Regions from separate parts of the Homo sapiens genome. Here region 2 is linked to region 1. The links come from fine-mapping of genetic effects on gene expression. A gene starts in region 1. The other region holds a variant in brackets. All regions are shown on one strand. Distances are between the middles of the regions.

Region 1 (12,746 bases):
GGGGCTGGAGAGTGTGGTGTCCCAGAAGCTAAGTGAGAAGACTGTTTCAAGAAAGAGGGAGTGTTCAGCTGTATCAAACGCTGCTGCGATGTCAATGTGCAGACTGGAAACTGACCACCGAGCTTGGCATTGTGGGGACTGCAGGTGACCGTGACTGTGGGGATTGTTTCAGTGGGGTGGTGGGGATGAAAAGACTGAATGAAGTAGCTCAGGAGAAAATGGGGAGAAGGAAGTAGACCCAGTGTGTAGAGAGATGTTATAAAGGGCAAGTTTTGCTATAAAGGGAAGCAGGGGAATAGAAAGGGGTTTTTGCTACCACTAAATCATGAGTATTTTCTTGGGTCTCTAAAATTCTTTGTATATCATAACCTATACTTTTTGTGGTGACACTACAGTATAAAAGTAATGCATGCATAATTTATACTACTGTATATAATGTGAATAATTACATTCGTGTAGTCAGACCTTACATGTTCAGAGCATTGCTGAGAAGCCAAAAGGAAATCATCTCTAGCGGTCAAAACAATTCCCGTGTATTCCTAGCTAGATTACACACTTCACTCTCTACAGGACTCTCCAAGATCTTCTCATTTTTATGTTTAATAAAGTTATATTTTGTTTCACAAAGTTCTTAAAAGCTTCACAGCCTAAGTCTTCAAGAAACCAGAAGATGACAATTAGAAGGTTAGGATGGAGAAAGGGTGAAGGATGCGGTTGGGTTTGTGGAACAGCTATAGAAACTCTAAAGGCACAGCTGTTCGTGGCCACCCATGGAGAGGCACACAGCACAAGCTGTTGTGTTCAGTTGCACAGGTTGGTCACTGCACAGGGCTCCCTGCACAGAGCTGTAGCCATCCAGGGGGAGGGGCACCTTTTAGTCACATGAAGGTGTCATGTCATCCACTCATCAGGATCATGTTCTCAAGGCTGTGTGCACCTCAAGGCTCTCTCTAATTCATCCTCCCAGAGGGTGTGCCTTTTTCTAATTTGCATAAAAGAGTAGAGGCTAGCAATAGCTGTGGTCTAGCTCCTAGACACATTGTATTTAGAATAGTGACCTTAAATCAAGAAGATGCTAACTTTTCTTCACTGTTTAGACTGTAGAGATGTAGAGCTCATTTATCTTCGGTGTTTGAAGGACAAGCTTTAGGTATCTCGAACATTAAGTTAGTTGAAATATCATAAGGACACCAGATAAATGGTTTTATTAGCTCTAAGTAGTTCATTCTAGTATTTCGTAAATAAGGAATTCTTTTTGGTCAAAATAATACTGGAAACAAGGAAGGAATAATCCTTTTGGGTTTTACCTACTTGGGGAAGAACCTGGCTTTACTAATTAAGTATCAAGAGATGATACAGAATCACATATGTGCCAGAACTGGTAGCACTCTATCCTGTAGAAACAGTCTGGGATTCTTGGTGAGTCTGCATTATTAAATATATTATTCTCCACATCTACAAGCCATCAAAATGACAATTCCCCAAGTGATCTTCTGTCAGGCTAAGAAAAGGATCTTGGCAATACTGTGGCTTTGTTACAGGAAAGCGGTCCCAATCCAGACCCCAAGAAAGGATTCTTGGATCTCTCACAAGAAAGAATTCAGGGCGAGTCCGAAGTGCAAAGTGAAAGCAAGTTTAAGAAAATAAAGGAATAAAAGAATGGCTACTCCATAGACGGAGCAGTCCCGAGGGCTGCTAGTTGCCCATTTTTATGGTTATTTTTTGATGACACGCTAAACAAGGGGTGGATTATTTATGCCTCCCCTTTTTAGACCACACTGGGTAACTTCCTGACATTGCCATGGCATTTGTAAACTGTCATGGTGCTGGTGGGAGCGTAGCAGTGAGGACGACCAAAGTCACTCTCGTTGCCATTTTGGTTTTGGTGGCTCCTTTACTGCAAGCTGTTTTACCAGCAAGGTCTTTGTGACCTGTATTTTGTGCTGACCTCCTATCTCATCCCGTGACTTAGAATGCCTTAACCGTCTGGGAATGCAGCCCAGTAGGTTTCAGCCTCATTTTACCCGGCTCCTATTTAAGATGGAGTTGCTTTGGTTCAAATGCCTCTGACAGCTTTGCTTGACATAATCTTCCTCCAAGAACCCAGTGCGGATGCATTTCTGAATTATAGAAACCACAGGGAAAAGTCCTTGCAGAAACTCATGCAGCCCATGTACATTTTACTAACAAAACAGAGTTTAGGAGAAAGAAAAAAAAAATTAAAACCTACCTTGTGCATCTGAATACTAAGGCATGAGTTAGGGATTTTGAAAAGCTGTAGGTTAGGTTGTGCACTCCCCACTCCCCTAAACTTCAAAGCTTTAGACAATTCAGATAAAATTTCCCCTCCCACCTTTCCTTCCTCCCTCCTTCCGTCCTTTCTTTCCTCTTTCCCTCCTTCCCTCCCTTCCTTCCTTTTCTCATCAAATTATCTGAATAATGTCTCCCTCTCTATTTAGTAGAGTTTCCAGGTATGACAGCTCATTGCTATTTTTCCCCTCTTAACTTATCTAGAAAAGGGGAAAGAGGCCACTTGCACTGTGATCATATGCTTTGTTGCCCATAAAAAATTTTTTTAAACTGGCCCGCTCAAGAAAGAATCCACGCAATGCAAGAAGGAAAAACAATGAATTCAGAGAAGCTTGTTCCCATCCACTTGGAACGCAGTCTCTTTTTGGCAATCTATTTGATCAGCTGGGGGAAAGCATTCTTATTTACATAAACTCCTGATCCTTTGTGTTTCAGGATGGCACCATTCCAGGGATGTGGTTTCCATATGAATGGAGACTAAAGGCCCCCAGGTGCCCATCAGACACCTAATAGAGATAGCTTCTCTAGGCTGTCCAGGAATGTCTGGTTGTTTTCATCTCTTACAATCTTGCAGAATGATCTAATATTTGCAAATGCTTATGCCCTCTTTAACAATTCAATGACCAAATAAGAAATTAATTTAGAAAATAATTGTCTGAAAAACTTGTATGCCTACTGCATATAAACTCTCCTACTGGGTGCTACAGGGATTACAGAGATAGCTCGGCACTTGAGAAACAGACAGGTGAGAAGAAGCACCTAAACATTAATCTTCTTCCTGGCTGGGTGGTGTCGTACTTACAATCCCAGGACTTTGGGAGGCCAAGGCAGGAGGGTTACTTGAGACCAGGAGTTTGAGACCAGCCTGGGTAACATGGTGAGACCTCTGTCTCTACAAAAAGTAAACAAAACCTAACCAGGTGTGGTAGTGCACACCCATAGTCTTAGCTACGCTGGAGGCTGAGGCAGGAGGATTGCTGGAGCCCAGGAGTTTGAGGCTGCAGTGAGCTATGACTTCAGCCTGGGCAACAGAGGAAGAACCTCTCTCTAAAGAAAAAAAGAAAGAAAGAGAGAGAGAAAGAGACAGAGAGAGAGAGAGAGAGAGAGAGAGAGAGAGAGAGGGAGGGAGGAAGGGAAAGAAAAGAAGAAAGAAAGAAATTCTCTTCCTCTTACACTGAGCACACCAGGAACACAGGCAATGCTTTTTCTCTATATGCTCTACATCACCTAAATATAGTGTTGAGGACATAAACTAGTGATCAATAAATGGTTCTTGCAGTGAATTTCCATAATCAAAACCCACGGTAATCACCAGCCAAATTTTGCAGGAAACAAGCACTCCTTTCTCTCATTGTCCAGGGGCAGAGCAGATGGGGTGGCATATAAGGGCCACATAACCTTCCGTGGTAGGAAGTGATGTCAGACAAGAGGTTGTGAATATTTCATGTGGTTCAAATGAAAAGCACATTTAAGGAGACAGAGATGGTAACTGAGACATTGCTTATTGAAGAAGAGAATCTTTCACATCTGAAAAAACTCAAGTGCGTTAGAAGGTTTGACTACTCATGGCAAAATAGTTTTTGTGCTGATTTCACACTCTTACTGGTTTCTACTAAAAAAATGGAGCTTATCAACCACACAGGTGTCTACTCACTTACGGTTCTCACAGCTGGGATTGGACCACAGAGAAAGAAATAAAAGGCCTCCTGAGGCAATCACCAGCTCCTCTGCATCTAGAATCTGGCTCCAAAATGTTGCCTGCATTTACTTACTGTCTCTGTACTTGTGTCTTCTCTGAAGAACAATGCAAACTTCCAGCTGGGTTAAACCCAATTTAGCACAGCACTGTCCTTTAGATATTTTTAAAAACGTAAAGAGAAATGACCACTGTTCTCACGCTGTAATTTCAAAATGGCAATTTCCCTACTATATACTTGTTAAAAGTGAAAATTTTTTAAAAAGGTAAAAGGAAAAAAAAACCCCACTCAGCTGCTCAGTGAGGCAGAGTTAAAATATTCTGCAGAAACAGCACTTATGAAACAGGCAGAACCCCTGGGGCTACCAATTCATGAACACACAACTGGCAGTACAAGACAGGTGTATTGTCGTAGACTCATCACCCAGAAAAGCATTATTATTTACTTTTAACAATAAACATTTTATGATGGCACTCCGTTTTAGTGATAAATGACTGGGGAAAATAAAAAATGTGTATAGCAGAATCAAATATAGGCCCTCCCCGGGGGTTTCACTGGCTTTCTCTCACAGCTGCTGGCTACATTATTTCTTTTCCACTTACATTTTTACAGCATGGGGTTGGGGCGGGGGGGTGGCTCTTGGTTTTCTGGTTGTACCTGTCAGATTTGTTAATCAAATGAATCCAGTCCTACAAACGATGAGCCTGTGACAGCTGGCCTTTGGGGTTGGATTCTGCCCTGGGCAGCAAAGTGTCCCTTATTTGGGTATTTTTTTCCAGGTTGAAAACTCGGCACTTAAAATTTAGCATCTTACCACTGTGAAATAACAGGCATTCCGAAAGAACTTCGGCATCTGATGCCTTTCCGGGAACACTTGGGCCACTCTCCTTAACCTTTACCGGCAGTTTTAAATACTACAATGCAGGTACAAGCAGAAAAGCCAAGGATGCGGGCTATGCAAAGCCACTCTGTGACTCTACCTACTGCCATGGGAACGTACTTATGGATGTGGCATGTGAGTGTGTGTGTATGTGTGAGTGGGTTTGTGAAAGTGTGTGGATTCGTGCGAATACGTGTGTGAGTGCTTTGTGTGTATTTTTGGATGAATTTGTGAATGTACATGTGTGTTCATCTGTGTGTGTGTTTGATTATCTGCTTATGAGTCTGTATGATTGTGAACGTGTGAGTATATGTGTGCTGTTTGTGTGACTGTATGAGTGTAATGTGTGTATGAATGTATGTTTGAATGTGGGTTTGAGTGAATGTGTGGGTTGTGTGTGAATGTGTGTGTAAGTGAGCATATCACTGCGTGCATGTGTGTAGCTCCTTAAGTGTGTATCTGAATGTGGGTTTTATTTTTGTGCGCGGGAACGCACATTGTGGGTGTATTTGTCTATATGCATTTGTGCGTTGTGACTGTGTGTTGAGTGTGAGCGTTGTGAGAATGTGTATTTGTGTGTCATGAGTGTGTGCGCGTGTGTTTTTGTGCATATGTGCGCGCATTGTGTTTGTGTGCATTTGTGAGTGTATTTTTGTGCGTCTGAGTGTGTGCATTGTGGATCTGGGTGAATGTACTGGTCTGCGTGTGTGTGGGTGTGCGTGTGTGTGTGCGCGCGTTGTGCGCGAGTGTGCGAGCGCGTGTGAGCGGGTGTGTGGTGCGGCCGGGCGCCTCCACCTCCCTGATCCGCCCCATCCCGGCGGGCGCCCGAGCAGAGGCAGCGGCCCGGGCCGGGGCGGGCGAGGGAGGGACGCGAGCCGGGGCAAGCGGGCTGCGCCACCGCCGGCGCCGCGCCGACTTTGCCCTTTAAATCGGTCTCCAAGCCGATTACAGCTGAGCTCCCACGTGACGTTTTACCTTCTGTCTCCCGGAGCGCGTTGCCCGAGGACAGTCCTTCCCCGGCTGCCGCCCCAGCCCGCCGCGGGGGCTCGGCTCCCGCAACTTTGGGCGAAGCGGCGGCCGGCTCGGGCGCCCTCGCGGGGCCGCGCTCCACGCGGGCGTTGGGGGCTTGGGGGGCTCCGGGGGCTCGGCCGGGAGGGTGGTGGTTAGGGCGGAGAGCGTGCCTCGGCCCCAGCCCGCGCCCCTGCCACCGCGCGCCGCGGCCTCCCGAAAGCGGGCGGGGTGCCCTGCGCGCGGCGTGGGGAAAGGGGGCGCCCTTCGCCGGCCGGGACCTGAGCGGTCGCGCCCTCGAGGGAGCCAGCTGGGCCATGGCCGCGAGGCAGGGGTGAGACCGGCGGCCACCCGTGAGCCCTCCGCACCCGCACCATGCAGAAGAGCGTGCGCTACAACGAGGGGCACGCCCTGTACCTGGCCTTTCTGGCGCGCAAGGAGGGCACCAAGCGCGGCTTCCTGAGTAAGAAGACGGCCGAGGCGAGCCGCTGGCACGAGAAGTGGTTCGCCCTCTACCAGAATGTGCTCTTCTACTTCGAGGGCGAGCAGAGCTGCCGCCCGGCGGGCATGTACCTCCTGGAGGGCTGCAGCTGCGAACGAACGCCCGCGCCACCCAGGGCCGGCGCCGGGCAGGGAGGCGTCCGAGACGCGCTGGACAAGCAGGTACCGCGCGCCTTCTCTCCGCGGTCTCCCAGCCTTGATCGCCGCACTCCCTTGCCGTCCTAATCCGGGGATCAGGGGTCGGGGGTCGTGAAAGAGTGCGGGGACTATGCTCCGAAATCCCCCCGCGTCACCAGTGGCGGGACATCTCCACGCTCCTTCCGATCTTCATCCAGGGATTCTCCCATCTCCATACCCCTCCACCCCACTGCCAAGTGATCAGTCAGAATAGTGGCCCGACTTGCTTTCATTACCCTGGTAGAGGTCGAGTCGTTTCAGCTTCTCTGCCAACCATCTATTGCTTCTCTAGACCTGGCTCGCCAGATTTTTGTCTGGTGACATGTATTGACACCTGTTGGGTGTAGATTGGCAAGACGGAACTAACTTATTTGGAAAAGTTTGATTTCTGCCATACCCGGCTGGCGCGTGTAGATTTCTTTGCCTGCAGATGTTTGACCACTGGTTGGGCTGGGAACAAGCGGGGCTCCCAAGCCGGACAGACACTTTCTGTTGGTCATTTTCAATCAGTCTTTGTGATTTCGGTCAGTTGGCCTTGCTAACATTTGACCTGCTGGGTGTAATTATGAAGGTAAATGTGTATTCATATTCCTCAGGATTAATATTTGGTAGCCACATTCTTGCTATGTTTAAAAATGTGGGCATTTTTAAAGAACGCTTCTGTACTTTTAAATGAATGCTTTGAAAATGAATGCGACCTTTTAATTCTGGGTCATAATTTTATTAGTTTTGCTGTGTGCTCATGGTCGCGGGGTGGGGGAGAAAAACCCTTTAAGTCTTAGTGATCCCAGCCCCTCATTCCTGCAAACACAAAGTTTGTATGTTTCCAATCACCGTTTGGTTATTAAAGTTAAAGCAGACTAATTTTATGCCCCTAATGTTCTCATTTAGCTTCTCAATCCCCACCTTGATATGAAAAAGGCTGATTGTTTTTGCTGTTGCGTAAAAATATTCGCAGCTGAATTTTCCATGTGAGTTCAGATCAGACAGCATCTACCGCACACCACAGAGGCTGTGGGAGGTGCTAGCAATGGAGTGATCCGTAAGATGCCTACCTAACCCTTTGGGGCTCATAAAACAATGTGTAAAATTAAGAGGAGTTAAAACTAGACCGACCGGAAGTTTGAGTTGTTTTCACTATAAATCATTAACAGACTTAAGTGATTAAACTTGTTATAACACTTATAAATCTGAAAGTTTAAATATGCTCTTTAGTTTCTGAGGGCTTGTTCAGAGTCATTTGAAAAACTGATTTCCAACTTTATAGATATAGATACTAGAAATATAAACATAAATTTCAAGTCATGCATTTTAGAATTTAAATTGGGAGAAGAGTTTTGAGGAAACATTTTTTTTCAGGAATATATATAAGTAACATTCTATTGGTGGGATTTTTTTTAAGGTATGTGTTCCAAGGCCCCGCAGGAACCAAAATGAATAGGTTTCTAAATGTTATTATGTCTAAAGTAGAATAGGGTATTTTAAATTACTCAGGATATATATCATTTACTTAATCTCAAATTATTTGTTTTCTTCATATTTATATTAATATAAGATAACCACTTTTGATTTTTTTTTTTTCAGTTAGGGGTGGGGAGTTGTTACCTGTTACAATTCATATGGCTCTCTGACTTGCTAATGTTATATGGAAACCAACATTTTTCTACTTGGAAAATATCTGGACTGTAATCTTCAAGACTGTTTTCTTTCTTGCACTTTAATAAGGAAACATAACTTCCAAATAGTTTGACTTTCATGCCACTTTCTAATGGTTGTCCTAAATAGGCCATCTAATGAAAAAATTGTTTTCCCTTTTTATGACCATGCAAATGATGAGTATTTCTCAGTCATTTTATTCATCTTCAAGAGGTTAGAAATTAGAATCTTTGGTGTTTGTAGATAAATCTGAGATGTAGAGAAGCAAGCATTCCAGAATGGATTAGGAGTTGGGCTGGGAAACCTTCCACATTTTGTCTTGCATTAGATGTGCTGCTGTGAGTTGGGTTAGCTTAGCCCACTGATGCTTTTCTCTGGCACTGCCAACTGGGTGTGTTTGAATAATTAAGAAGAAACTGTGAAAATAAGAAACAAGGAGAAACATTCTACCTTAAATCTACAGTTTATCCAGTTGGTTACCTCTCAGCTAATTTATGTTGCTGAGGTGCTTAGATCATCCAGACACTGAGACACGAAGGATCTGTGGAGGATGTGAGGAGATGAGCACATCCCAAGGTTTGCTTCTTTCTCCTTATATGCTTCTGGAGCTTTCCATATCAATATCTCCCTCAACACTATCAACACAGTTGAAGGTTAGGGCTTGAAACAGGACTTAGTGAGGCAGAGTCATTTTTCTTCACCAAGTTTCCGTGTTATTTCTTTAAGCACATCTCTTAATCTTTTCTCTTTTTTTCTGTTAATGAAATCTCTGTTTCCTAATATGTAAAAATTAAGAATTTGGCTAAGTTGGTTTCCAATTACCTTTCAATAATGGCATCTTCTATTTCTAAGGTTATGACAGACAGGGTGAGCTTTTTGCAGTGTGGAGAATGTGAAAGACCATTTCACAAGATTCAGAGATTACCAGTGTTTGTAATAAATACTGCATCTGAAAAGCCGAGGACAAGCAGGTGATTGAAGTGGACATTCTGATAAATTAGTTAGGTCAGCAGATGTGCAAACCTATAGTAACATCATTGCCTGAGGCAGAGACATTCTTATTACTCACATTGGAGGGCGACATATTTATTGTAATCCCCTTGACAGTTACAATAGTTGATGTAATTATTGCTATAAACTGCCTCTAAGCATTCTTGGGAGCTTAAAGTCCACATATCCTTCAATGATTTTTATGCTTATTAGTTGTGTTTTTAGGTAAGTTACAAGAAGAAAACACCCATTGGTTTGCTTCCTGTAAATAACAATTCAAAATAAGTTGGTTGACAACAACAAAAAAATCCGTTTTTTTTTTTTTTTTACACTTGGACTTAAATTGTTTCCAGTTAAGCAGAAAAAAGAAAGTCACTTTCCAAATATGCTTAGATTGTAGGAATATTTGCATTGCTCTATTTTTTTCATAGTGTTCTCAGATTTCACTTTGATGAGTCTTTGGAGGATTGCAAGGCTCTCTTATCAGCCTTCCATAGTGACTACTTCTTTGGGATAGCAATGGTGATATAATCAAAATGAGATCAGTTAAAAACAATTTTAAGTGGTTTATTTTCTCCAAAAGTGTTGTTCCTTTTCTTAAAAAGGTGTCCGATGGCACTTCTTTCTAGTTAAGCTCCATTTGTGGAAAATGAAAACCTCCCGTTTTGTTCCAGGTGAAGGAGAAAGGGAAGTTGTATTTAGCAAGTACCTTCTACATGGTAGGCTCTGTGCTCTTGGTGGCTGTTATCCTCTCTTACCTCATCTAATTTGAACTTCAGCTTTTGGAGATGATGAGTATTAACATCATCGTTATTATTACCTATTGCTAACACTGAAACTCAAAGACTTCTGGGGAGATGATCAAAGTCCAGTTGAAGATATAAAGACTAAATTATGTTGAAGAGTTCCTTACTAAGACTGTTTTTAAATCCACTGAGCAAATCTAGATGGATGGGGGCTTGGGGTATAGGATGTGAATCACTGTTTTGTTTATTCTTATTTCCTTTTCAAAACTATTTAAATGGCAGTTGTAATTCTTGAGAAATACGATTGCAGACCATTACATGTTCAAAGAAAAACGGGATTTATTTTTAAACAAGCAGTTTTACATGACATTACTTCAGGAATTCATTTACTTCAGGAATGGGGTACCTTTAAAAATATTTGCATTTAGGGTGAAAGTACACATCCCAGTTAGTCTGCTCTGTTTCAGTGGCAGTATCTGTCTTGCCTACTAGCAGGAGAAGACACATAGCAAAAAAGCCACCTTGATTCTTATTTTTCTGGTGGTGGTAAATGTTCTCTTCAGCCTGATTTCACTTGTTTTGGGGGGTAAAATATCTCTTTCGCTCTGGAGGTTTAAAGAAGTAGACATTTGCATTTGTGCTGAATTAAACATGTTGGTTTAATTTTAAAGGGATTAAAGGCTATGTGATTTCCTGTCACTTCATTACTAGTCATTTTAGCCTTCCTAAATTGACCACAAGCAGAGGATTTTAATCATCGAATGAATTAGGCAGAGCTGCGTGCGAACTCTGAAATATTTGTGGGAGATGGAGAGTGTGGATGGTGGATTTTCATACTACTTCACGTTGTCTAATTATAACCAACTCAACTTTTGTTTACTGAACACAAAGGGAAAATGGAATAATGATATTTGCTAAATCTTATACAATGTTAAAAAATATAATTTAGGGAACAAAATAATTTATTACTTAAACTTTGTAATTATCCTTCTCTTTAAAGTTAAATGAAAAAAAAATCTCATGGATTAGCAAAATTGAGTTATTTTAATTTTGGCTACACTAAGCCTTACTATTTAGATTGTTGTGTAAGAATTCAACACAGAAAAGTCCATCCCTGATGTGACAGATGTATTAATACATAAAAATGCATTATTGTTGTGAACAACTATTTTTCTGTGGGTTTCATTAAGTGACAACTAAGCGCATTGTCGAGGGGTAGAAAATACTTGTAGTGTTATAACAATTTTTCCCTTCTTTTGACAATTAAAAAATAGAGAAATTTTTCTCCCACTGGATGATGACAAGACCTAAAGCATGTGTGATAACCAAATGTTTCTGGTTTTAGCAAGCAAATGTCAGTGGTTCATTAAAACAATTGCTGATATTGCTGTCTGTTTAATGCAGATTATATTTTTAAATGGATTTTTTTCTGCAGTTTTCAATACTACTTAAATATGCATGCCACAGTCAGTATAATTTTAATTTTTTGGAATGAAATTACTTAGTCTTTATGATTATTTTGTAATGAAATAAGTCAGATTGACCAACCATATGGATTTGCTCAAGTCTTAAATTCTACTTTTCACAGGTTTAAAGTGGCTTTCTATTTTTATACCTATTTATTTGTTCTACAAGAAAGGGATATATGTTTGTGTGTGTGTGTGTGTGTGTGTGTATGTGTGTGTGTGGTGTTTATTCAGTTTGTTACCCTTCTACTATTTTCTACCGTTGAATATTAAACCTTTGTTAGGCGGTTATATATTGGAGTTTGCAGATTTTGATTTGTACATTAACATTTCAAGACCTGAGTTATAAATCCCATCTATCTATAATTTGGGGAGCTTTATTTTTCAGGACTAAGGATATGGAATGATTCTGTTAAATTACTCACAATATAAATTCCTCTCTGAAATTAGTTTACCTTAAACAAAGACTGTAAATAGTAAAATTTTATTGATATTTAAATGAAACTAGAAATGATATTTGTTAAATATCAACATAGCACTGTGATAAATGTTTGATTATTTTATAACATTTGGCCTTTATTCTAAAATCTAACCATTATTCTAAAATTATCCATTACATTTTTATTGGTGCAACTTTTAAATTTTAGCTGATTGAGAAGTTATAAATACATGAATTTGGTTCCGCCAAAGGGAATATGTTAGCATTTTTGCCCAAGGAGTTAAAAATGTAATTGTGTATATATTTAGAAAAAAACAGTAGCAGGTTTGTTGTTGTTGTTGTTGTTGCAGAAAATATTGGCATCAGTAGGTGGAACAGAGATGCAAAAAGCACATGGACTCACAGTTTTATTTTTTTACTGGCACTTGAAAAACTAATGATTTAATGAAAAATAAGGATTCAAATCATTTTTCCTAAAACTTATTACAGTGACTACAAAATGCTTCAAATATACTTTTAGGGAGAAAGCAGGAAAAAAATAACAAGTTTGAGTTGGTCTGTGTTTATTTAACTAATATACTACAGTGTTTCTTTTCTTTGTTAAAAAACTGTAAAGCAAGAAATGAGACAGAAAGTTGGGGAGGCCTATATAAGAATAATTTACAGCTTTAGATTAAATAAGTTAATCAGAATTTTAATTCTCATAAGATCTGAGAAGATAAAGATAAAATGATGTAAAAAAAGCAATCCTTAAAAATAAAATTTGTTGGCCGGGTGTAGTGGCTCACGCCTATAATCCCAGCACTTTGGGAGGTCGAGGCAGGTGGATCACCTGAGGTCAGGAGTTAGAGACCAGCCTGACCAACATGGCGAAAC
Region 2 (12,746 bases), 250 kb after region 1:
CCTCTGTCCGTGCTTGGGGATGGGAAGCCCAGCATCTCTCTGCCAGGGTCTGGTACTTCTTTACCACTCTCATTTCTAGTTCCCTCTTCATTTACAACCTCTAGAAATGACCCTTCCTTTCCTCGAAGCTTGGCTGCATTGTCTCCTTGTTACATGTTATCCAGAATGTTTGTGTCATCCACAGGCAGTCTATTTTAGCTCAGTCCATGTTTTTGCAAGTCCTTCCCTGATGCAGCAACACCAGATGTTGGTTTGTGATGTGTTAGCAACTGGCCTGTAAGTCTTTCTTAGCCCCCATTAGCTGAAGATCCCATAGCCAGACCGTTCTTTGGTGTAGGGTCTCTTACAGGTAGAATTGTATCTCCCTACCCCCTAAAAGATATATTGAAGTCCTAGCCTCCCATACCTCAAAATGGACCTCATTTGGAAATAAGGCCATTGCCAGTGTAATCAGTTAAGATGAGGTACTGGAGTAGGGTGGAGGTATTGGAGTAGGGTGGACCCCAATCCACTTTGATTGGTGTCCTTATAAGAAGTCAACCATGGAAGACAGACACAGACAATGCCATCTGAAGATGGAGGCAGAGACTGAGTTATGCAGCTGCAAGCCAAAGAAAGCCAAAGATCGCTGGCAAACCACCAGCAGCTAAAAAGGCAAGGGAGGGTTCCCCTCCAGGATTCAGAGGCAGCATAGCCCTGCTGACTGTTCGATTACAGACCTCTGTCTGGAAGGTGAGACAATACATTTCTGTTGTTTTAAGCCACCCAGTTTGTGGGATTTTATTAAGGCAGCCCTAGGAAACAGTTAGGGGCCTTCTTCACTTTTTCCATTCTATGAAAACATCTAAGTAAGCCCAGGGATTCCACTACTGTGTCTGTTTTCAGATTTTAAAATTGTAAGTACATATTGAGGTGAAGCCTGATTTCAGTGCATGAGGGACTCTGAGTGATTACTGTTTCTTTTCTCTTCATAACTAGTTTGTTATGCTCTTTGCATTTAAAACACTAATATTTAAAAACTAGATTCAGGAAGTTTGTGCCCCTAGGGATATTTGACTAAATAGCTATCAGGGAAGTGAGGGTGTTCAGGCTGGGAAAAACTGTCAGGATCAACCAGTATGAGGGCCTTTTGTTGCCAATCCCCTCAAGACGCCCATGCCAGACTTTACCCATCAATTCTGAGAGCTTTCTCTCTGCACCAAGAGGTGACCTCAGACGTCAGTCAGTTGGAGTTGGTTCTTAAGATGAATCCTGTTTGCCATCCCAGGTCTTGATTATTCATCAGGCTTCAGATGTGCCAATTCTTTCTGCTGAATAATGACCTGAGAGTTAGCAGTGTAAGATTGATAGGGAACAGAAATTTTAGTAGGCAGTAGAGCTTGAAACTACAACACTGAGCAGAGTCTGATTCTACCTTTTGCAGGATGTCACAAGGCTAAATCTTGGCTCGGCCATTTATGGATGTCAAGTTCTCAACCGGTCCAAACCTGTTTCCTCATTTATAAAGTGGGACTCATAATAGCTACTTCATTAGGTTGTTGTGAAGAGTACATGATGTGAAATGTGTAAGGAGGTTAACACAATGCCTGAAAAGTCATTAGCACTCGTAGTAAAGTGAGTATTATTACTGTTAGAAGCACTGACAGTAGTTCCTGGAAAAAGTAGTTTCTGCCGTTAAGGCCATATGGCCCAAGTGAAACCAGGCTGGATCTTAGTCAACTCAACTTTCTTTAGGCTTCGTCACCTTTTCCACACAAAGACAGTGTGGACCAATCCCAGGACAGACACTGGTTGCTTGTGGCTCTGTTTTTGGACTACCCTAATTGAAAGAGGAATTTTCTATTCATACAGCTTGGATAATCCCATTTCCTTTTATTTGGTGTGTCATTATAAATGCACAATTATTAAACTGGTGATACTGCTGATAGACGTGGTAGTGATGGTGGTGGGGAACCCAGGATCCTGGAATGTTCATCAATGCCCAAGCATCGCCAGAAGACTAGAAGCAAATCTTTTCTCTATTGGAACTGAACCAGAAGTGCAGAGGCCTCCACATCTGAAGGGAAAGAATTCTGAACCATGCCCTCTAGAAAACACAGGCTATGACTGTGAGAGATAAAAAACATATCATATGGTGGTTAAGTGCAGCCCTGACATTTAGAGATTTATATGCATTCCTGACATCTAAGAGATATGAACATAAAACATGTTTTCATGCATAGGTTACATTAATGCAATAAAGCAAATGCTCTTTTGAATGAAGCCTCCCTGACTCACAGTCTCACAGGGGTCACAATTAAGTGTATGATGAATACACTTAATTGCCATATATAGTTTGTTGCCCTGTTTGTAAATAAAAACCTGTACTCAAAACTTATATTTCTAAAATACCATCTCTCCTCCTCCAAAGTTGTCTAACTAGCTGTCTTCAAAATCTATTCAGTGTAGAGTTTTTCTAGATACCCAACATGCCACAAAATAAAAAGAAATAGTGATTAACTTCTTGGATGTTCAACTGTGATGGGCTCAGGTCATAGAAAAGTCATCCTCAAACCCCACATAGCATCAACAGGAAGGCATAAAATGTTAGGTAACTTAATGGCACCAGAGTGCCTCTTGGAAAATGAGGGTAAGATCATTGAGAAGAGGAACATTTGATGGGAGCTAACTAACTTTTTGACTTTTTCTTTCCAAGGGAAAGATATTACCCAGCTTCATAAAAAGATCTTTCCCACTGGTACACATAATTATGGAGCCACAGATCTCTCTCCAGGAACCTAGAATGGTGGAAAAGATGATGTGCACTTTCGGAAAAGTCACTTTTATCTCCCATGTGTAACCCTTACATGTAATTTAATAGGCTTTGGAGAAAGAGTTAGCTTTAACTTATTTTTTCCTCATCTTAATCTGCCCTTTAAGATAAAATGACTATTTCTTTCTACTCACAAATAATATGGCTAAGTGCCGATAAGAGGGCTGCTACTAGTATAATCTAGAAGGCTCCTGCTCCCCCTTCAGACAGCCGAGGGAAGGGAGTTGTGTTTATTGACTGTGTGCTGTGTGTGGGACCCTTGAAGAGGTGCCTTCCCTGAGCCTGCTTAAGAGAAGCGCAGAGTAAAGGAAGGGCCCACAACCCTGAGCAACTTAGTCAGTGTCTTTGAGCTTTTGTTTCCTTATCTGTAAAACGGAGATCACAATGCCTGCATTATCTGCTGTCCTGTATAACAATCCCTTGGAAGGGATCTGTTAGGATACAGGAGATAGTGCATGTCAAATGTTTAGCACATGCCTGGCATAGAGCGGGCATACAGGAAGCCATCTCTGTTGATATTATGTTTTTGAGGGTTGTGGCTGTTGTTTTAATCAACTCAGAACACAACAGAACATCACATCATCATTACTTCTTTTAAAAGTAGCTTCCTCTTACTCTAGTTTCTCTTCATATCGCATAAATCTTTCGCCTTTTACTAAAAGTAGCTTCCTCCAGCAGAGTACATGGTTTGGGACCGTTTAACTATTTTATTTTGTTTTATTTTATTTATTTATTTTTGAGACTTGAGTCTTGCTCTGTCGCCCAGGCTGGAGTGCAGTGGCGCTATCTCGGCTCACTGCAAGCTCTGCCTCCTTGGTTCACGCCATTCTCCTGCCTCAGCCTCCCGAGTAGCTGGGACTACAAGTGCCCGCCACCTGCCCAGCTAATTTTTTGTATTTTTAGTAGAGGCAGGGTTTCACCGTGTTAGCCAGGATGGTCTCGATCTCCTGACCTCATGATCTGCCCTCCTACTATTTTAATGCTTTGAGTATGTGCTTGTGCCTTCCTTTTGGAAAACATAAAATGCCTGGCTCCAATGGCAAATTATGTAATTGGATGCCTACTGGACTCCAGTTTTCCTGGACTCTGAACGTCTGTTGCACAAAAATACCCTCTACTCTGAAACCAGTATTTAAGGTATTAACTTGTGTTTATTCATTCACTCATTCATTCATTCATCATTTATTTTTTTAAAAGATATTTATTGAGAGCTGAATAACATGTATGAGATTCAGGGCCAAAAGTGTCTGAGGAAAGTCCATCTGGAATGCAAGGGGGAAGAAGCTATCTGCTGGCTCCTGCCTGGCATTGTTCAGAGTCTTGCCACATAGGAACCCCCTGTGCTTCTGGTCTACGTAAGCTTGAGAAAGGGGTGGCCCTGCGTCTCCTGCCTCTGTGAGGGCAGGGAAAGCCCACGGTAGGGGATAGAGGTGTGGGGAGGAGGGCACTCAGGCCTAGGAGTCCAACTGGCTGATAGCATTAGAGGATGCTCCATTTTACATTATGGATGGTAACTCAGAGCTCACCCAGCTCACCCTCAGACTCACTGTGACGGTGGTTGTTTCATTTACAACCTTGTATGTAACAGGTTGCCTTTTTGTTCTAAATCAGCTGTCCTGATGATTCTCTCATGCCTTGAGCATGTTTTCTGTTTGGGGATTGCTCATCTCCAGCTCAGCAGTTGGTTGTGCTGCATGGCCTTGTAGACCCAAATCCTCAGACCTCCCATCCAGGGAAAACCAAACTGCATTTGTAGTTTTGTTCCTAGGTTGTCTATTTTTTCTTTCATGGAGGATAATTTGATATCTTTTTCAGGGCCCTTTCACAAGATGACCAAGATGACATCCACCTAAAATTAGAGGATATAATTCAAATGGTAAGTCTGACCACATTTTTATCTAGCACAACTATGTGCAAACTACCTCTCCAAGGCGAGCAATATGCTTGTAACCGATCAAGGAGTGTTGTAGTATTAGGCCCTCTGTCCTATCTGTGAAGCTCTGTGAGATGAACCACATTTGGTGTGGGGTCTAGCAGTTGGTCTAAGATATTCATGTTGGCTTTGATACTTTTAGCTTTCTGCCATTTTTTTCATAGTTAGAATTTAGTGGTGAACTTCATGCTTCCACACATGCAGCTGTCTGCCTCACTGACCTGCAATGAGATGGCAGGCGCCCTCTCCTGGGTGTTTCATTTCCCTCCCTCATCTCTTGCAGACTGACTGCATGAAGGCCGAATGCTTTGAGTCCTTGTCGGCCATGGAGCTGGCAGAACAGATCACCCTCCTGGACCATGTCATTTTCAGAAGCATTCCCTACGAGTGAGTGCCACCCCCCACAGCAGCAGGGCTCGGCTGCTCTAGCTGTCTTAGAAGTTGACATTATTCCTAAGGCAGGTTGTGTGTATGTCTGTCCCCTCAGTTCCTGTGTGAGTATCTACCAGTTGTTTCCATCCATGGAACTGGCACGCCTCTGTGTCCAGCACTCTGCAGGATGGGAGCAGGACCAACAACAGCAAGGGACAAAGAACCCTGCCCAGGGACTTAGTCAACCTGAGTATCAGAGTAATTTCGAGTGTTTTTAATGACTATACAAAATAATTCCTGTATGCTGCATCTCACTTGTCCCTTGTTTCTTGCTGTGTCTGGTGACCTGCTCAGGAATGAAGTGAATGATCAGGAATGCTGCCCTGAAGACAGCCCATCTGACCAGGTGGAGCTTCTGCCCCGCTGAACTGCCTG[G/A]TCAGGGCAACATGCGGTACAAGCCTAAAAGGAGCGCTTTTCAGCCCTGACCACCTGCGCCCTCCTGAGCGCTGGGGAGAACAAAACGCAATCCCTGCCTTTGAAATCTGCATCCTCCAGGAGAATGGCAGGCAGCGCAGAGTGGAGGGAGAAAATTCTGCTTCTGACTAACATTTTTGGTAGTGATGAAATTTTTGGACCCTCTGCTAAGGCTTAATGTTTTTAAAAGCTAATCCTGGGAAAATAGTCTTGATTTCTAAGGTAGTACTTAACCTCTTTATTTCCCTTGTGTTGGTTCTTGTTTTCCAACTTCAGAGAAGGCTTTATAGGATCCTAATAGGGACACAGTTCCAAACATTTATAAGAGAAAGCTGGAAGCTGAAGAATCTTCCTTTTTGGCATTGAGAGGTAAACTGCAACAGCCGAGGTAAAATTCACTTGTGAGGCTGGCAGCAGCAGGTGTCAGGAACCATTCTAGGCCATGTCAAATGGAATTTTTCTAATATTCGTGACAACTGTCCAGGATCATAGCCACCATATTTTTAAAAACTTAATTGGTTTTGTGTTTTGTTTTGAACTTCCAGGGAGTTTCTTGGGCAGGGGTGGATGAAGCTGGATAAAAACGAAAGAACTCCTTACATTATGAAAACCAGCCAACACTTCAATGACGTGAGTAACCGTAACAGTAAAACCGTGGGCGTGTCACAAGAAGATGGATATTGGGGTCTAAAGACTCCTCTAAAACAAAGCAACTCTGTCACCCACTTTTTTTTTTTTTTTTTTTTTTTTTTTTTTTTTTTGAGACAGAGTCTCGCTCTGTCGCCCAGGCTGGAGTGCAATGGCGTGATCTCAGCTCACTGCAACCTCCACCTCCCTGGTTCAAGCAATTCCCCTGCCTCAGCCTCCCGAGTAGCTGGGATTACAGGTGCATGCCATCATGCCTGGCTAATATTTTTGTATTTTTAGTAAAGGGGTTTCACCATGTCGGCCAGACTGGTCTCGAACTCCTGACCTCAGGCAATCTGCCTGCCTCAGCCTCCCAAAGTGTTGGGATTACAGGCGTGAGCCACCGCACCTGGCCTGCCACCCACTTTTAAACAGAATTGATGGGATATTGACGACAAGCTTAAATCTCTAAGAGCTCACAGTAATGTAATAATGTCCAATTAACTTCCTGACATAAAAGGTTCACCTTTGATGGTACCCAGTGCTCAATAATGTACAGGTTGCTGATCCTATTTTTATCATGATTATCACTACTTCCTGTTCATATATTGACTAACAGAGTGAGCAGTACATGTGTCACTGGCCCCTGGTGGTGTTGGTCACGGTAAGGCTGGGTTGGTGCAAGTCCTCATCATTACTGAACGTTCAGCCTGAATTACATTCCAGGGTTGGAAGGGGCCTCTTGGAGCATAATCACATTGTTGCTATAGTTCTGTGCAGCAGTGGCCAGCTGTCAGTCCATCTTACAGCTCTGCTTTTCCCCAGCGGTAAGATTGGGAGATGCTTTTATACCTCCCCGCTCTTCCTTAGTGCTGTTCTCATAGTCTTAGTCCTGTGGTAGAACAAGTAACAGGTGTGGGAGTGTCTTCTGGCCTATCCAGGCAACGGGAAGCCTCCCCTTCCAGTTTCACTAAACTATAGTAAAAGGAATAACGATTTTAAAAACAACAACAACAAACTACCAGGAACCCCATAGGTAAATTAATAAGTGATCTAGAATCAAAATGCAAAAATGACAGTTTAGATTCCCAAGACAGTGTTTCATGCAGGCTTTCCCCAAAGCACGTGGATGCTGTGTGAATGCTACCACACAATGAGCTTCAGTGCCGCTGCTGCCTAAAGGACAAGGGCATGGCCCATCTAGTGCCTGCCCTGAGAAACAGATTCCCTGCTGTGGGAAGCAAACCTCTGTTACCTGTGGTGAACCAACACAGGGGATATAATGGACACTCAAAGAGAGGTTCGATCCCAGGCTCCAGACCCACATGTCTCCTCTGCTGGGACGACTGCTACATTGCATTCTTGACAATTACAGATGGAACCTTTCATCTGCACCCCAGAGCCGCCAAGCCTGCTTCTTCATTGTCCTCTCTGTTCTCAGTCTTGGGTAGTGGCCTCACCATACACTCACTCACCCAAGCACAGGATCTAGACGTCATCTTCTCCCTTACCAGCTCACCCTTACCACTGCCCAACATATTTGCAAACTCTAAATCTACATATATCTCAGGCTCTTCCCCACCCTGCCTTCCCCGCTGCCACCACCTTGATGTGGCCTTTTACCTTGTCTCTCCAGGAGCTCCTGACTCATCTCTCCCCTGCAACCTCACTGCCCTCCAATCCATCTGTTAGGTTCAGAGTCAGGTTCCAGCCCATGCTGAGGTCTGAGGGGAGTGGGTGGATGCCTGAAAGAACACGTAGGGGGCCGTAGGTAGGTGAAAGATGATTTTGTTCAGCGGGCGCTCTCATCAGCAGCTGTCTCATTAGCAGCTCTTTCATCAGCAGCTCTCTTACGCTGTCTCTTCTGTCTCAGCTGCTTGAGCCAGTCGCTCCCGCGCACAGCTGTGTGGCCAGCTCTCACTTGCCTTCAGGGTCAGCAGCTTAACTCTTTCTCTGGGCATGAGCTCCTGTACAGTGTCAACAGGGCAATTATACCTTTTACAGACAATAGTGGCTTAGAGCCAAGTGATGGCCTTCCGTGTTATGGCTACATGGCTGTGATCACAAGTGGAGTTATACACCTGTGCTCTAAACTCACTGAGTCCCTCTGGCCCGGATGTCCACCTTGGCCTATCCTAGACCAAAGCACAGCCATGTACCTTAAACCATCCTGCATGCAGTGGCACAGGAATGACTTCTCTGAAAGGTCAATCTAATTATCTACCTCCCTTTGACAAAAATCTGTCAGTGGCTTCCCCTTACCTTAGGGATATGGTCCCAACCTGTCATACAAGAGCACAGCCCATCTGTCACCCTTGCCTCTCCCAGTCCTTGTGCCCCTCAGATGGCTGCCAGGTCCTCCATTACACCATCCCTCCCACCTCTGTCCCCTTGCTCTCATACTTAGATCCTTTAAGACTCAATGCAAGGCTGGAGACTGTAGCTCACACCTGTAATCCCAGCACTTTGGGAGGCCGAGCTGGGAGGATTGCTTTAGCCCAGGAGTTCAAGACCAGCCTGGGCAACATAGTGAGACCCTGTCTTTATAAATACAAAAAATTAGCCAGGCATGGTAGTGCACACCTGTGGTCCCAGCTACTTGGGAGGCTGAGGTGAGAGGATCGCTTGAGCCCTGGACATCGAGGCTCCGGTGAGCTGTAATCATGCCACTGTATTCCACCTGGGGCAATAGAGCAAGATCCTGTCTCCAGAAAAAAAAAAAAAAAAGACTCAGTGCAGGCGTGACCTCTTCCTAGAAGCCTCCTCTGTACTAGACCAGATGCCCCATGCTGCCTGTGTATTCCCAAACCCCACCGTGAATAGACTCAACTTTGTGTTTCGCTGCATGGCATTTACCTGTTTATGTATCTGCGACCCTCCCCTTCCCACCTACCTAGGCTCAGATTGCCTTAAGGTCAGGGATGGATTTATTTGTCTTTCTGTTCCCAGCACCTAAAAGAATCTATTCTATCCCATTTCCTCAATAGTTATTGGCAAGAACTTCTTCATCGAAATTACTGATTAACAAAACCACTTCTTCCCAGGACAAACTGGATTCCAAATAATTCCTCTCCTCACGCTAAGGATGCGCAGGCACTCAGTGAACAGCACTGCAGTAGGTGCTTTAGCGAATTTCCACAGTGATGGTGTTGAGGCACTATGAGATCTTAAGTGTCTTCAGAATCATCAAAGAATGGGTGAATCCATCAGACTTGGTGTATGGATATAAGATTACACGCCCTATATTCCCTTTGTTAATACGGTAATCTCATTTCACTTTTTTTTTCCTCTCCATATTACAAGAGCTGAGCTTCTTAAACTGGCTTTAAGTAATAAAATTACGGTACTTAGCCTCAAAACTATAGGTCCTTTTAACTGCTGGTGAAGAATAAGATGAAGAAAATGTTCTTTTCCTTGCAGCCAAGTGATTCTGGTTTGAGAGTTAATCAGCTCAGAATTTGATCTAACTGGGGGCAAGTGTTTTTTTCTTTCTCTGTGATAACTGTGGCTTCTCAGAGTGAGTAATCACACACTGTTGGGGGCCAAGGAGTAAAGGGAAAGGCCCCAGGGAGTGACATCCATGATCTACAGACATTGCCTTTCCGCAGGCGTTAGGTTATTCTGTCCCATTTCCTCAGTAATTATTAGAAATGACACCATCAAAATTGCTGAGGAACAAAATCATCTCTTCCCTCAACAAGCGGGAATCCAGATAACCCCTGTGTTCACTCAAAGGACAAACAGATGCTCATTAGTTTATTCTTATAGACTTTAGTCTCTTTAGAAAGTTGGTATCTAAATGTAGAATATGATCTTCAAGCTACTCAACACCCTGCCTTCCTGACAGGTCTGCAGATAATTTACATATTTTGCCTAAATGCACTGCTTGGGGCTCTTAGACTGCCTTTCGGGGCTTTTTGATTGTCTCAGATGAGTAACCTGGTGGCCTCCCAGATAATGAACTATGCTGATGTCAGCTCCCGTGCCAACGCCATCGAGAAATGGGTGGCAGTGGCGGACATCTGCCGATGCCTGCACAACTACAACGGCGTGCTGGAGATCACCTCGGCCTTAAACAGAAGTGCCATCTACAGGCTGAAGAAAACCTGGGCCAAGGTCTCTAAGCAGGTGAGCCTCAGCGTGTGACACAGCCTGCTGCTAAGAGGAGGAGAGGCTGGGAGATGGGAGCCAAGTTAAATATTACTAATTAGGAAATCATTAACTGAAATGAGCCGCTCAGTTGCCAAAGAAAGGTGCCAACATGGGTAATTACAGGGCTCTTACCACTTAATTGATTTCATTCATGTGCATTTCTAAAACATTCATTAAAGCATTTTGGGGGACAGCCACAAACAATGTGGTTGTCAGTCAAGAGTTGTTTCCTGAATTATTTCGGAGGGTACATTGATTTTGAGCAAGCACACTTATGTCCAGTGGGTCCATTCTTTCTCTCCCAGAGTGAGGGTGCAAACTCTGTGGGGCCAAAAGCCAGGGACAAAAGGCCTCATTTTTCACCTTTCTCTTGCTCATTCCTGTAGTAGATGTAAAGTTTTGGCATAATAATTTAGATGTGCAGAAATACAATTTTCATTTTCTTTCATTAATCTCAGCTTGCCTATGCCTGTCATTTTCACTCAGATAATTTCAAGATTCAAACTAAATCATGATTCTTCCCCTGCCCTTTCTCCTGGCCTTCTCCCTGGGTGTTGGGTGCCTTGGAGGGCATCTCTGGGCTTTTGGGCACCTGTCTGCTCCTCTGGCCTCCTGTGGTCATTCTTTGCTGATGATTCATTGGGTACAGGCTGCTGTGAATTGCCTGTACCTGGTGTCACCTGGCCTGCTTGCCCTGCCTGGGAACAATGCATGGTGATTGCACCCAGGGAGCCTGGCTGACCTCGTCTCAGGGGCGAGGGGGAAAGGGCCTCAAAGGGCCTCAGGGGAAGTTTCCAGGCTCTCACGTCCCATTGGTGCCAGAGAATAGAAGGGTCTACATCAGGCCCTCTCTGCCTAACCCTCCCCTGCCTTGCTGTGAACACCCAGAGTTGGTGAGGGGAATCTACAGAGTGCCACCTCCAGGGTCCCAGACCGGAAGATCTAGGTATGTTCTGCTGACATGGCCTAAAAACTGTCTCATTTTATCACCCTACTCTGAGGATTTAAGCCCCTCTCAGAGACACTCATTATTTCTTTTCCATCTTCATTTTGCCCTCCAAGCTTTTCCCTTTAGCATAGGAGAACAATTTAATTTCTCCATGTGGCAGGAAACCAAGCCTAAGTCCTATCTTTTATCTTACCTTTCTCAGAGTAAAAATGCAGTGCTCTGAGAATCCCAAATTTGGCCCCTTAGAACTCAAAAGTCCTCTTTTCTGTCAACAATGGACCTGGTAAATAAAAGCCACAGTTTTTAAAAATACTGGTTAAAAACAAAAAAACAAAAAAACAAACTTTTGTTTTGAGATGATTATAGCTTCACATGCAGTTGTAAGAAATAACGCGGGGATTCCCTGCACCTTACACCCAGTTTCCCCCAACAGCAGCATCTTGCACTACTACAGACAGTATCACAACTAGGAAATGAACATTGGTGCAATCCACCAGTCTTATCCAGATTTCACCAGCTTTCTAGGGATCACCAGCTATCACCAAGGGATCCCTAAATCTTAAAGTTTCCAGGCCCACTCCGTAGTTAAGTGATATTCTTGTCTTTGATAGGATGCTGGTTTAGGAATAACCGAACTGATCATGAAATAGAGATGATGAGACTAATATTGAAATGATTGTTTCAAAATTTGAATATACCATCTGTAGAGGCTCTAAATAAAATATTAGCATTTCAGTCACATTATAGGTCACTCACAGTGGCCTTAGCATGGGCTAGTGGACTGTCCCCCAGAGAGGCTGTCTCTAGAGCCAAGCGCCTTACTCCAGTCATGGTAGGTAGGGCCTGGTTGCAGATATACCCTGCTTCAGACACCTTTGATGACAACATCCGCTGTACAGCTGTCCCTTCTCTGCATCTGAGATCAGCCGGGGAGTTGTTCAGCAGGCCTGATAATCTGCACTCTGGAACCCACAGACTGGTCTGTTGCTGTAGGACAGGTTGTACTTTTGAAACTTTTTTGAGCAAGGTTAGCCCTGGACCAAGCATGCCATCTCTAAGAGCCCTCAGACACCAGAACTGGGAAGACAGCCCTTTGCCTCTCAGGAAGCTGTGCAGCTCCTCTCCAGGTGAGACAAAGTAGTTTGAGGACCCTCAACCTGGGCATTCCAAGTTCTTCTCCAGGCAGGACCTGGATCCTCCATGCCCAGCCACGCTGCCTGGATGTGGGTATTCCCAGGAATGGGTTATCCTCCCCAAGGGCCACCCTACCACTCTCCTATGTTCATGGAAGAAACCCCAGACCAATGTCAACAACAATGTTATTTCTCAGTAATTATCAGTTATACTTCTCTAACAAATGGATGAAGAAGATCACAAAAGAAAAGATCTGTAGTAGAGGACATTGCTTAGTCAATACCAAGGTAACC

Evidence for each region. PIP is the estimated chance that this variant, and not a neighbour inherited with it, causes the effect.
Region 2: its variant is fine-mapped to the expression of RASGRF2 in whole blood (TOPMed, PIP above 0.99).

Annotation. Positions count from the first base shown.
Region 1 is chr5:80,954,469-80,967,214 of GRCh38, forward strand. RASGRF2 (Ras protein specific guanine nucleotide releasing factor 2) reads left to right here and starts at 5,895. Exons shown (of 27, transcript NM_006909.3): 1 at 5,895-6,558. The coding sequence starts at 6,271. RASGRF2-AS1 (RASGRF2 antisense RNA 1) reads right to left here and starts at 6,439. Exons shown (of 4, transcript NR_105015.1): 1 at 6,313-6,439. RefSeq lists enhancers at 2,387-2,907, 5,998-6,719.
Region 2 is chr5:81,202,218-81,214,963 of GRCh38, forward strand. It overlaps RASGRF2 (Ras protein specific guanine nucleotide releasing factor 2), which reads left to right. Exons shown (of 27, transcript NM_006909.3): 20 at 4,628-4,688; 21 at 5,029-5,132; 22 at 6,137-6,221; 23 at 10,149-10,346. It overlaps LOC124901017 (a long non-coding RNA gene), which reads right to left and starts at 8,721. Exons shown (of 2, transcript XR_007058842.1): 1 at 7,842-8,721; 2 at 3,994-7,193. RefSeq lists an enhancer at 10,321-10,380. The variant G/A (reference allele first, on the strand shown) is at 5,553.